Linked DNA regions of Homo sapiens: region 1 is linked to region 2. Evidence: fine-mapped QTL for protein levels in blood plasma. Region 2 holds a variant in brackets. A gene starts in the other region. All regions are shown on their reverse strands. Region 1 holds the start of ENTPD2 (ectonucleoside triphosphate diphosphohydrolase 2). Region 2 overlaps GRN (granulin precursor).

The links. PIP is the posterior inclusion probability: the model's chance that the variant is causal. Protein levels are from antibody-based Olink assays in UK Biobank. Linkage for the fine-mapping came from a reference panel and not from the study's own genotypes, which makes the PIPs less certain.
Region 1: it holds the start of ENTPD2, and the variant in region 2 is fine-mapped to the plasma level of the ENTPD2 protein (UK Biobank, PIP above 0.99).

The regions. Positions count from the first base shown.
Region 1 is chr9:137,051,393-137,056,744 of GRCh38, reverse strand. ENTPD2 (ectonucleoside triphosphate diphosphohydrolase 2) reads left to right here and starts at 2,684. Exons shown (of 9, transcript NM_203468.3): 1 at 2,684-2,864; 2 at 4,397-4,514; 3 at 5,085-5,235. The coding sequence starts at 2,748. It overlaps LOC105376327 (a long non-coding RNA gene), which reads right to left and starts at 4,400. Exons shown (of 2, transcript XR_930455.2): 1 at 3,870-4,400; 2 at 3,370-3,735. RefSeq lists silencers at 2,449-2,528, 2,629-2,698.
Region 2 is chr17:44,352,674-44,357,976 of GRCh38, reverse strand. GRN (granulin precursor) reads right to left here. Exons shown (of 13, transcript NM_002087.4): 13 at 4,871-5,303. The coding sequence ends at 5,179. It overlaps FAM171A2 (family with sequence similarity 171 member A2), which reads left to right. Exons shown (of 8, transcript NM_198475.3): 4 at 1,389-1,547; 5 at 1,625-1,804; 6 at 1,903-2,019; 7 at 2,136-2,262; 8 at 2,786-4,762. The coding sequence ends at 4,244. Among named protein-coding and RNA genes, the nearest start is that of FAM171A2, 8.5 kb to the left of the region's middle. RefSeq lists silencers at 3,190-3,239, 4,270-4,339. The variant G/A (reference allele first, on the strand shown) is at 5,101.

The DNA of each region.
Region 1 (5,352 bases), not on the chromosome of region 2:
CGATTCTCTTGCCTCAGCCTCCCAAATAGCTGGAATTACAGGTGTCTGCCACTACAGCCGACTAATTTTTTTTTTTTTTTTGACTCGCTCTGTCACCCAGGCTGGAGTGCAGTGGCGCGATCTTGGCTCACTGCAAGCTCCGCCTCCCGGGTTCACACCATTCTCCTGCTTCAGCTTCCCGAGTAGCTGGGACTACAGGTGCCCGCCACCACGCCCGGCTAATTTTTTGTATTTTTAGTAGAGATGGCATTTCACTGCGTTAGCCAGGATGGTCTTGATCTCCTGACCTGATGATCCGCCCGCCTCAGCCTTCCAAAGTGCTGGGATTACAGGAGTGAGCCACCGCGCCCGGCCCACAACCGGCTAATTTTTGTATTTCTATTAGAGACGGCGTTTCACCATGTTGGCCAGGCTGGTCTTGAACTCCTGACCTTAAGTGATCCACCTGCCTCAGCTTCCCAAAGTGCTGGAATTACAGACGTGAGCCACACAGCACAAGCTTCTGATGTGGAGACTGAGGCAGGGCAGCCAAGATGTCAGCAGGCCTCAGGAAAGCCCCCCTCCCTGGGAGGTCTGAGCCCTGCGTGGGCGGGAGGCTCCGAGTTCCCTCCCCCAGGGGTTCTCCCCTAACCTCTCTGCATCCGCATGTTCCCAGCTCAGCCGGGGTCATGTGCAGCACATCTGGAGGCCCCATCCCCGAGAGGGTCCTGGAAGCCGAGAGCTGCCCCACCCAGAGGCCCCTCCACCCCTTCAGCTCCTGCCAGCTTCCCTCTGACGCTCTCCCAAGTCTGCCTTCCAGGGTCCCTGAGTCCATGCCAGGAAGGGGCGTTCCCCCGCCCTCACTCCGTCTCAAAGAGAGCTCAGCCTCAGCCTTTGTCCTGGCCGCTCTGGGCTCCCTGCCTCTCCCTCCGCAGGCGAAGCTGGGCACTCGGCCATGAGCCTGTCTCCCCGGGGCAGAGTCCAGCTCCCCTCTCCCTCCCCATCCTCTCAGGCCTGGCAGACCTCCCACTCCCTGGCTTGAGCTTTTTGTCCATGAAAAGAGTCCAGAACACCAGGAAGCCCCGCTGGGCCTGGAGGGAAGCGGGGTACCGCAGGCCAGTGGGGGTCGCAGCACCCTGCCTCTGGGCGGCCTTTGTTCCTTCCTTTTCAGGCATGATGTGCACTGTGCGTGCCTCTCCCTCCTCTGGGCGGTCAGGGGTGGAAGAAAGGCCTGGGGTGTGTGGGGGGAAACTGGGGCCTGGGGCCTGGAGCTTAGCACCGGCAACACCCAGAGATTGCCTGCTGGAGCCCCGCCAGGCTGGGCTGTGAGGCTGAGGCAGCAGAGAGGCTTCCCAGGGTTCCCACCCCTCCCTTTGGGGTCCTGAGCTGGAAGAAAGATGCCTTTACTGGGCCTGTGGCGCCAGACCCTCAGCCCAGGCAGCAATCCCAGCACAATTGTCACTGCCCGTTCCAGAAGGCCGGGCATGGTCTGGACCCTGCCCCATGGGGCTGCCCTTTGGGCCCCAGCAGCCTGCACTCCCTGGTGGCCTTGCCTCGTGGCTCCCTGACGCTGTGTGGCTGGAATTATTGGGACAAGAATTCCCACTTTGCAGCAGGCGCAAAGGGGGTGGCCCCTGGCCGGGCTGGGATGCGGGGCCTGTGAGGCTGCAGAGCCGAAAGGCCAGCCATGTCGTGGGACGGAGGAGCAGGGCTTGCGTCTGGGGCCAGCTGCGCTTCGCCTGCCCCAGCCGTCCCCAGAAGCCTGTTGCTGACCCGCACCCCAAGCTTGGCCTGGGGACCCTCTTCCTTGCCTTTCAGGCCACGTAGAGGCCCCACCTGTTTCCGTCCTGGGGAAGCCTCCTCTGGCCTCCGCAGCCCAAGCCTCTGTTCCCCTCAGGCCGAGGGGGCAGCAGGCGCGGCTGAGGCCCTGGGCTGGGAGGTATGGACCTTTGGCCCGGTCTGTGCTGCTTCTCCTGTTTCTCGGCTCGGTGTGACCTGGGCCGTCCCTCCCCTTCCCCGTTCCTGCGTCCTCACCTTCACCTCAGTACAGGGCCCAGGTGAGGTGGATCTGACTGGGCCTCAAGGGTAGTTCTGGCCTGGGTCAGCTGCGTGTCTCTGGAGCTGACCTGCGCTGGCTCAGCGCCGCAGGCTGGCGGATCCTTGCTGGCCGGGAGGGCATCCCGCAGGCCAGCCTGGTCCTCACCAGCCCTGGGAGTTGGCGCTCAGGGCCCTGCTCCACAAACAGGTGCTGACCCTCGGCTTCCTCCTGAGTCCCCAGCCCGGGCCCCGCGTGGCTCCGCAGCCGACAGTGCCTCATTCCTGCAAGCGAGTCTGGCCTCCTTTCCCGGGCCCGGGAAAAGCGCGGCTCTCCAGCACAGGACCCTCCGAGCCAGCCTCGCCCGCCCACCCCCACGCCAGGTCTCCTGCCTCCACGGCCGGGGGATCCCCTTGCTGAGTGGGCGGGAAGGGGAAGGTGGGCCATAGCCGCGGGGCGCCCGGGCTCAGACCCGGGAGCCGGGGGGCGGTGCTGGTGACTCAGCCGCGCCCGCGTCTCTCACCTGCGCGGGCCGGACGGCGGAAGCTTGGGAGCGGAGGCGAAACCTGTCCGCCCGTGGGCGTGGCCGGTGATGGGCGGGCCCGCCCGGCCTCCCGCCCCTCGTCCCGCCCCGGGGCCCCTACCCCGCGGTCCCGCGGCCCCGCCCGCCTCCGCCTCCGGCTCCCCGCACTCTCCGGGTCCACGCATCGTCCTCCCGCGCGCCCGCCCGCCCATGGCCGGGAAGGTGCGGTCACTGCTGCCGCCGCTGCTGCTGGCCGCCGCGGGCCTCGCCGGCCTCCTACTGCTGTGCGTCCCCACCCGCGACGTCCGGGAGCCGCCCGCCCTCAAGGTGCGCGCCCGGGCACCCAGCGCACGTCTGGGGAGCAGCGGGCCGGGCTTGGAGCCGGGGAGGGGGTGCGGCTGGGAACCTGAGCAGGATCAGCCCGGGACCCCCACCGTGCTCTGCTCCTGGCGGGCTGGGTGGGGTCCCGGGTTCCGCGCTCTGCGCTCCCCGACCGGGTACGCGGAGGGGGCGGGGGGCGGTGGCGCTTCCAGGGCGACGCGGTGCTGAAGGAACAAGTCCCGGGAGTTCCGCGCCCGCCGCCGAGTCCGTCAACGCAGCCCAGGGGCTGTGTCCCCGCTCCCGGGATAGCCCAGCGATGCCCCCTGGGTGCTGCCGGACGCCCGCCCCCAGGCCTGTGCGGGCCCCCAGGGGCACTCCGGGCCACTTCTGCCCTGTGCCGCCGCCCCGGAGGGTGCGGTTAGAGCCACATCGACTGGGTATTCAGCCCAGATGGGGATCCACAAGCCCCAGGACCCAGGGCCCCCGCCAGGACACGAGAGTGGCCCAGAAAGACAGGAGGGCTTGACCGGAGCAGCCCTGGCCGGTCCTCAAAAGGTTGGAGCAGGCTAGCCTGGATCTCCACTCCAGCAGGCCCAGGGACCTCCTGGTCGGCCCCTTTAACCCTTTATTGGGCTTGTAGGGGGGTGGGGTGGAGAGCCAAGTCCCCCAGCCTGATGGGGAGTCAGAAGCAGGGAGCTCTGCGGCCCTGCAGGACGGCCATGTGGCGGTGCACGCGCTGACCTGTTGATGCTCTGGGCTCTGGGGAAGCCTTGGTCGGGATGGACTGGTGCGGCCCTCTCGGAGGCTGGAATTGGCGCCCGGGCCTGGGAGGCTGGTCCCCAGCTTTCCAGGTGGATCCAGGATGCTGGGGCAGGAGCTGGAAAAGGGCATTTACAAGCTCGTGCCACTCAGGTCTGCAGGAAGGCCCACCCAGCACCCCCAACAAGGCAGGGCCAGCCTCTCTCTCTGGCCCTGGCTTGGAGGCCTAGGGAGAGTGTCTTTAGAGCTGACCTGGCTCTGAGGCCCACGGCCAGCCTCGGTGGACCTTCTTCACCTGGGGCCCTGCCTCCTGCATCCTCAGGTTGGGCTGCCGTCAGAGGAGCTGGAAGGAGACAGAGGAGGAAGGAAGAGGGGAGGAAGGAAGAGGGACTCTAGGGAGCTCCTCTTGCAGAGGAGCTTCCTCTCCCTGAGCCTGGGAAACTTGTGCCCCAGGGAAAAGTCCCTGGGGACCCTCTGTCCCTCTGTCCCTGACTCAGTCCCTCAGTCTGCCCTTGCCAGGAAGGCTGCTGCCCAGACCCTGGCATGCTGGCTTCAGGTAGTCAGGAGGGAAGAGTCACCTCCCCACCACCTCCCTGTTCTCCTTCCAACCACGGCCTCAGAGGAGGCCCTGGCCTCCTCTGAGCTTCAGCATGAGGCTTGGCACATGACTGGGTGGGGGGGGGAGCGGTGGCAAACTGGAGGAACCCAACTTCACGTTTGGTGTCAGGGTGTCAGGGCCCCCGGACACCCCAGGCTGACTCCCTCCCCCTCCCCCGCAGTATGGCATCGTCCTGGACGCTGGTTCTTCACACACGTCCATGTTTATCTACAAGTGGCCGGCAGACAAGGAGAACGACACAGGCATTGTGGGCCAGCACAGCTCCTGTGATGTTCCAGGTGAGGCCCAGCCCAGCCCAGCCAGGACGCCCACTCACTGCAGGGTCTCTGGGACCCTCTCCAGCCTTAGCCAGTGCAGGTCCTTCTGCTTAGTGTTGGGTGGGGCTCACTCCAGGCAGAAGCCCTGGAAAGAGAGAGGCTGGTGCCCCTGCGCCTGAGTGGGGCCAGGAGTCGTTTGCATTCTAGAAAGGAAGCCTAGGCAGCAGGTGGGGAGGTTTGAGCCTCGCCGGGCCCAGTATTGGCTTCTGTGCCCCAGATGGAGCAGGAGGAGGTCTGGGGGCCTGGCGGACACACCCAGGCAGGCCTCAGGAGGCCAACCTGGGTTGACCATGCCCAGGGCTTTGTCCTAGCACCTGCACCCACACCCTCTCAGCAGGCAGCAGCCTTGGTCTCCGGGTGGCACCTGGGCCCCTTTGTCTCCAACCTGGGCGTTTCTGGGGGCTTAAGCAGGGAAGGTGTGCCACCTGGTCTGGGAGCCCACGGCCCCCACCCCCACCCTCACTCTCCTGGCCTACGGCCCACCTAGGGGCTGCCCGTGAGGCATAGGCTCATCTCTCTGCCTCCCTCTAGGTGGGGGCATCTCCAGCTATGCAGACAACCCTTCTGGGGCCAGCCAGAGTCTTGTTGGATGCCTCGAACAGGCGCTTCAGGATGTGCCCAAAGAGAGACACGCGGGCACACCCCTCTACCTGGGAGCCACAGCGGGTATGCGCCTGCTCAAGTGAGTGTGCCTGTGCCCTGGCCCTGTCCCCATGATGGCCTTTGGCTGTGACCCCTTGCAGGGCGGACTCCGAGCACCCCTACAGCAGGCTCACAGCCACCTGGGGAGAAGGCCTCT
Region 2 (5,303 bases):
GTGACCTCGTGCAAGTTACTGAACCCCTGTGCCTCCATTTCTGCACCTCTAAAATGAGGTTGATAATAGATACCTAGCTCAGGGGCTATTTTCCTAATTGCAGGGGTTAATATAGGTAACCTGCTTAGAACAGTGCCCAGCATAGCTTAAAGATTAATAAATGTTAGCTGTGACCATATTGTATTGGAATTGTTTGTATGTCTGTCCCCTCCACCCCAACACACACACACACACACACACACACACGACCTAAACTGTCTAATGCAGTAGCCACTAGCTACATATTAAATTGAAGTAAATTAAATTAAAAATTCATTAATTTTTTTTTTTGAGATGGATTCTCACTCTGTTGCCCAGGCTGGAGTACAATGGCATGATCTTGGCTCACTGCAACCTCTGCTGCCTGGGTTCAAGCGATTCTCCTGCCTCAGCCTCCCGAGTAGCTGGGATTACAGGCGCCTGCCACCGCACCTGGCTAATTTTTGTAGTTTTAGTAGAGATGGGGTTTCACCATCTTGGCCAGGCTGGTCTTGAACTCCTGACCTCGTGATCCACCTGCCTTGGAATCCCAAAGTGCTGGGATTACAGGCGTGAGCCACCGCGCTCGGCCTTTTTTTTTTTTTTCTTTTGAGATGGAGTTTCGCTCTTGATGCCCAGACAGGAGTGCAATGGCACAATCTCAGCTCACCGCAACCTCCCCCTCCCAGTTTCAAGTGATTCTCCTGCCTCAGCCTCACGAGCAGCTGGGATTACAGGAATGCACCACCACACCCAGCTAATTTTGTATTTTTAAGAGAGTCAGGGTTTCTCCATGTTGGTCAGGCTGGTCTCCAACTCCTGACCTCAGGTGATCCACCCACCTTGGCTTCCCAAAGTGCTGGGATTATAGGCATGAGCCACTGCACCCACCTAGAAAAAAATCATTACATTTTTAAAAATTAAAAATCCAGTTCCTCAGTCACACTAGCCACATTTCAAATGCTTAACAGCCACGTGTGTCCAGTGGGTACCATAATGGGCAGCACACCTAGAAAACATTCCCATCACAGCAGACGTTCATCTTTGGGCCCCCAGTGTCTAACCTGGTGCCTGCCACATAGTAGACAATACTGTTTGAGGATCTGGATCGCAACATTTTATAGGTTCTATAAGGAAACTTTCTACTAAAACAAGTAAATTGCTGAGGGTCACACAGAGATTTCAGGTCCATGTCCCTTCCAGGTTAACATTCCATGACTGCCCAGCTTTCTCCCCAAGGCATCACCCTCCCTGGCCTTCCAAAGTGGCCTGACCTCATGTCCCCCTTTTCCTTAGATAATGGGTTTCTGCTCTGGTCCCTGGGGATCCCTGTCCATGGTCAAGCCACTGCAGCCCCTCTTTCCCTCCAGGTGCCCGCTCCCAGCCCTTGGTGCAGTTCCAGCGCCGGGCTGCCCGCCTGCCTGTCAGCTCCACCTACAGCCAGCTCTGGGCGTCACTTACGCCTGCCAGCACCCAGCAGGAAATGCGGGCTTTCCCTGCCTTCCTGGGCACTGAGGCCTCCAGCTCAGGTAGGCTGGGTGCCCAGCACGGATGGGGTCTCCCCAGGCTCAGGATCAGCCCTCAGCCCTGTACCCTCTTCCCTCAGGCAATGGCTCCTGGCTGGAGCTGATGCCCCTGACTGCTGTGAGCGTGCACCTGCTGACAGGTAATGGGACAGAGGTGCCGCTCTCAGGCCCCATTCACCTGTCCCTGCCCGTGCCCTCCGAGACTCGTGCCCTCACCGTGGGCACCAGCATTCCAGCCTGGAGATTTGACCCCAAGAGTGGTAAGTGCCTCAGGGGGCTGCAGGTGCTTGAGTTGAGAGAAGAAAGTGGGACTTGAGTGGGAGCGACTCAAGTGTGACAAAACCCCTGCCTCTCCCAGGGCTGTGGGTGCGCAATGGCACTGGTGTAATCCGGAAGGAAGGCCGGCAGCTCTACTGGACCTTCGTCTCCCCCCAGCTGGGGTACTGGGTGGCCGCCATGGCCTCCCCCACGGCTGGTAAGAGTAGTGGGGCAGTGGGCGTAGAGGCCGCGGAGGAGGGGAGCTGGGAGAGCAGACTTCTGAAAGGCAGGAAGGGTGTCTACACCTGAACGCTAAGCCCTCGCCTGGCACAGGGCTGGTCACCATCACGTCGGGCATCCAGGACATCGGCACCTACCACACCATCTTCTTGCTCACCATCCTGGCAGCCCTGGCCCTGCTGGTGCTTATCCTGCTGTGTCTGCTCATCTACTACTGCCGGTGAGCACGGGGCTTCCCTCACCCTCCCCTGCACTTGTACCGGGCCCTGGGGCCCCAAAGATGCATAAAATCCACTTCTGGTCCTCAAGGGGCAGACAGGAAAAGACTTCCTGCAAACATGCTAAGACCTGAAGGGCTGGTGCTGGTGGTTGAAGACAGCGGGGAGGTGGGAGGGGAGGCAGGGCTTAAGGACTTGCAGCCCGGCCCCTCCAGAGAGATCTGCCACTGCCCCTACCAGCCCAGCTCTCTCTCCCAGAGGACTCCAGGCCGGACACACCCATAGACAGCTTAGATGCTCATCCCTGGTTCTCGCAGCACATCCTACATGCAGAGGAGTGCAGAGTTGACCCTGAGGGGATCGCCAAACGGACACGGCGGCTCCCCGCCATCTCTCCTGAGCGCCCCAGGCATTCTCCCCACCTCTTCCACTATATTCGTCTCTTGTCTTGCATCTAAGGGGGTTCGGGGCCTACTTTGGCCCTCACCCTTTCCTGAGCGGCCCCTTCTGCTCCCTCCCTTCCAGGAGGCGCTGCCTGAAGCCGAGGCAACAGCACCGCAAGCTGCAGCTCTCGGGGCCCTCTGACGGTAACAAACGAGACCAGGCCACCTCGATGTCCCAGCTCCACCTCATCTGTGGGGGACCCCTGGAACCCGCCCCGTCGGGGGACCCCGAGGCTCCGCCTCCAGGCCCCCTCCACTCGGCCTTCTCCAGCTCCCGGGACTTGGCCTCCTCCCGGGATGACTTCTTCCGCACCAAGCCGCGCTCTGCCAGCCGCCCGGCCGCCGAGCCTTCGGGTGCCCGCGGGGGCGAGAGCGCCGGGCTCAAGGGCGCTCGCTCGGCCGAGGGCCCCGGCGGGCTGGAGCCCGGCCTAGAGGAGCACCGGCGGGGGCCCTCGGGGGCTGCGGCCTTCCTGCACGAGCCGCCCTCGCCGCCGCCGCCCTTCGACCACTACCTGGGCCACAAGGGGGCGGCCGAGGGCAAGACCCCCGACTTCCTGCTGTCGCAGTCGGTGGACCAGCTGGCGCGGCCGCCGTCGCTGGGCCAGGCGGGGCAGCTCATCTTCTGCGGCTCCATCGACCACCTCAAGGACAACGTCTACCGCAACGTCATGCCCACCCTGGTGATCCCCGCGCACTACGTGCGCCTCGGCGGCGAGGCGGGCGCCGCCGGCGTGGGCGACGAGCCGGCCCCGCCGGAGGGCACGGCACCCGGCCCGGCGCGCGCTTTTCCCCAGCCCGACCCCCAGCGCCCGCAGATGCCGGGCCACTCGGGCCCGGGGGGCGAGGGCGGCGGGGGCGGCGGCGAGGGCTGGGGGGCCGGGCGCGCGGCGCCCGTCAGTGGCTCAGTCACCATCCCTGTGCTATTCAACGAGTCCACCATGGCGCAGCTCAACGGGGAGCTGCAGGCCCTGACCGAGAAGAAGCTGCTGGAACTGGGCGTGAAGCCGCACCCGCGCGCCTGGTTCGTGTCCCTCGACGGGCGCTCCAACTCGCAAGTGCGCCACTCTTACATCGACCTGCAGGCGGGCGGCGGGGCACGCAGCACCGACGCCAGCCTGGACTCGGGCGTAGATGTCCACGAGGCGCGGCCCGCGCGCCGCCGGCCCGCGAGGGAGGAGCGGGAGCGCGCCCCGCCTGCCGCGCCGCCGCCGCCGCCCGCGCCCCCGCGCCTGGCGCTCAGCGAGGACACGGAGCCCAGCAGCAGCGAGAGCCGCACGGGCCTCTGCTCTCCGGAGGACAACTCGCTGACGCCGCTGCTGGACGAGGTGGCGGCGCCCGAGGGCCGGGCGGCCACGGTACCCCGGGGGCGGGGCCGCAGCCGCGGGGACAGCTCCCGCAGCAGCGCCAGCGAGCTGCGGCGCGACTCGCTCACCAGCCCGGAGGACGAGCTGGGGGCGGAGGTGGGCGACGAGGCGGGAGACAAGAAGAGCCCGTGGCAGCGGCGGGAGGAGCGGCCGCTGATGGTGTTCAACGTCAAGTAGCGCCCGCGCAGGGCCTGGCACCGCCCCTCCCGCGCGGGCCCGCACCCAGGGTGCGCGCCCCGGGGGCCCGCGGGGGCCCTCGCGCGTAGCTCCCAGCCCCAGGCCGGAGAGGGGCCCAGGGGCCTTGGAGCTGTTCCGTGGTTGGTGCTGGGTCGTGTCTTGCAAGGGACCCTGTGTCTGCCTCCAAGCCGGGGAGGAGGGGGGGTCCAGACCCCCACGGGGAGGTGCCGGGGAGGAGGGCTGGGGGGAAGCAGTGCCTGTGTAGACGTGGCTGTACATAGAAAGCTCTATTGTGGGAAAGCAGGAGGGGTGACCCAGCCTCAGCTGCTAGTGTGAGGGCTGGGAAGGGAGGGGGCGTTCTTTGTGGACCCCTGGGAGGGGAGGGGGTGCTGCTTGCTGACTAGCCCATCTCTGGGCTACGATGTCACAGGGCTGGTGGCTGGGACAGCTCTGGGGACTAGGGGGTAATGTGATACAGCCGATGTGGGCAGCAGCAAATATAAAACTGGTGAGGTTAAGGCTGTGTATGTCTTTCTGTGGGGTAGGGGAGGGGAGTGTTGGCAGTGGACGTGAACCCCTGTTCTGGGGCCCTGGGGAGGGCAGGCAGGGCGGCAAATCAGACACTGTTAAGAAAGTGTACAAACTTTATTGAAACGCACACGCGCACACACACAAACACCCCTGTGGATAGGGAAAAGCACCTGGCCACAGGGTCCACTGAAACGGGGAGGGGATGGCAGCTTGTAATGTGGCTTTTGCCACAACCCCCTTCTGACAGGGAAGGCCTTAGATTGAGGCCCCACCTCCCATGGTGATGGGGAGCTCAGAATGGGGTCCAGGGAGAATTTGGTTAGGG[G/A]GAGGTGCTAGGGAGGCCTGAGCAGAGGGCACCCTCCGAGTGGGGTCCCGAGGGCTGCAGAGTCTTCAGTACTGTCCCTCACAGCAGCTGTCTCAAGGCTGGGTCCCTCAAAGGGGCGTCCCAGCGCGGGGCCTCCCTGCGCAAACACTTGGTACCCCTGGCTGCGCAGCGGAAGCCAGCAGGACAGCAGTGGCGCCGATCAG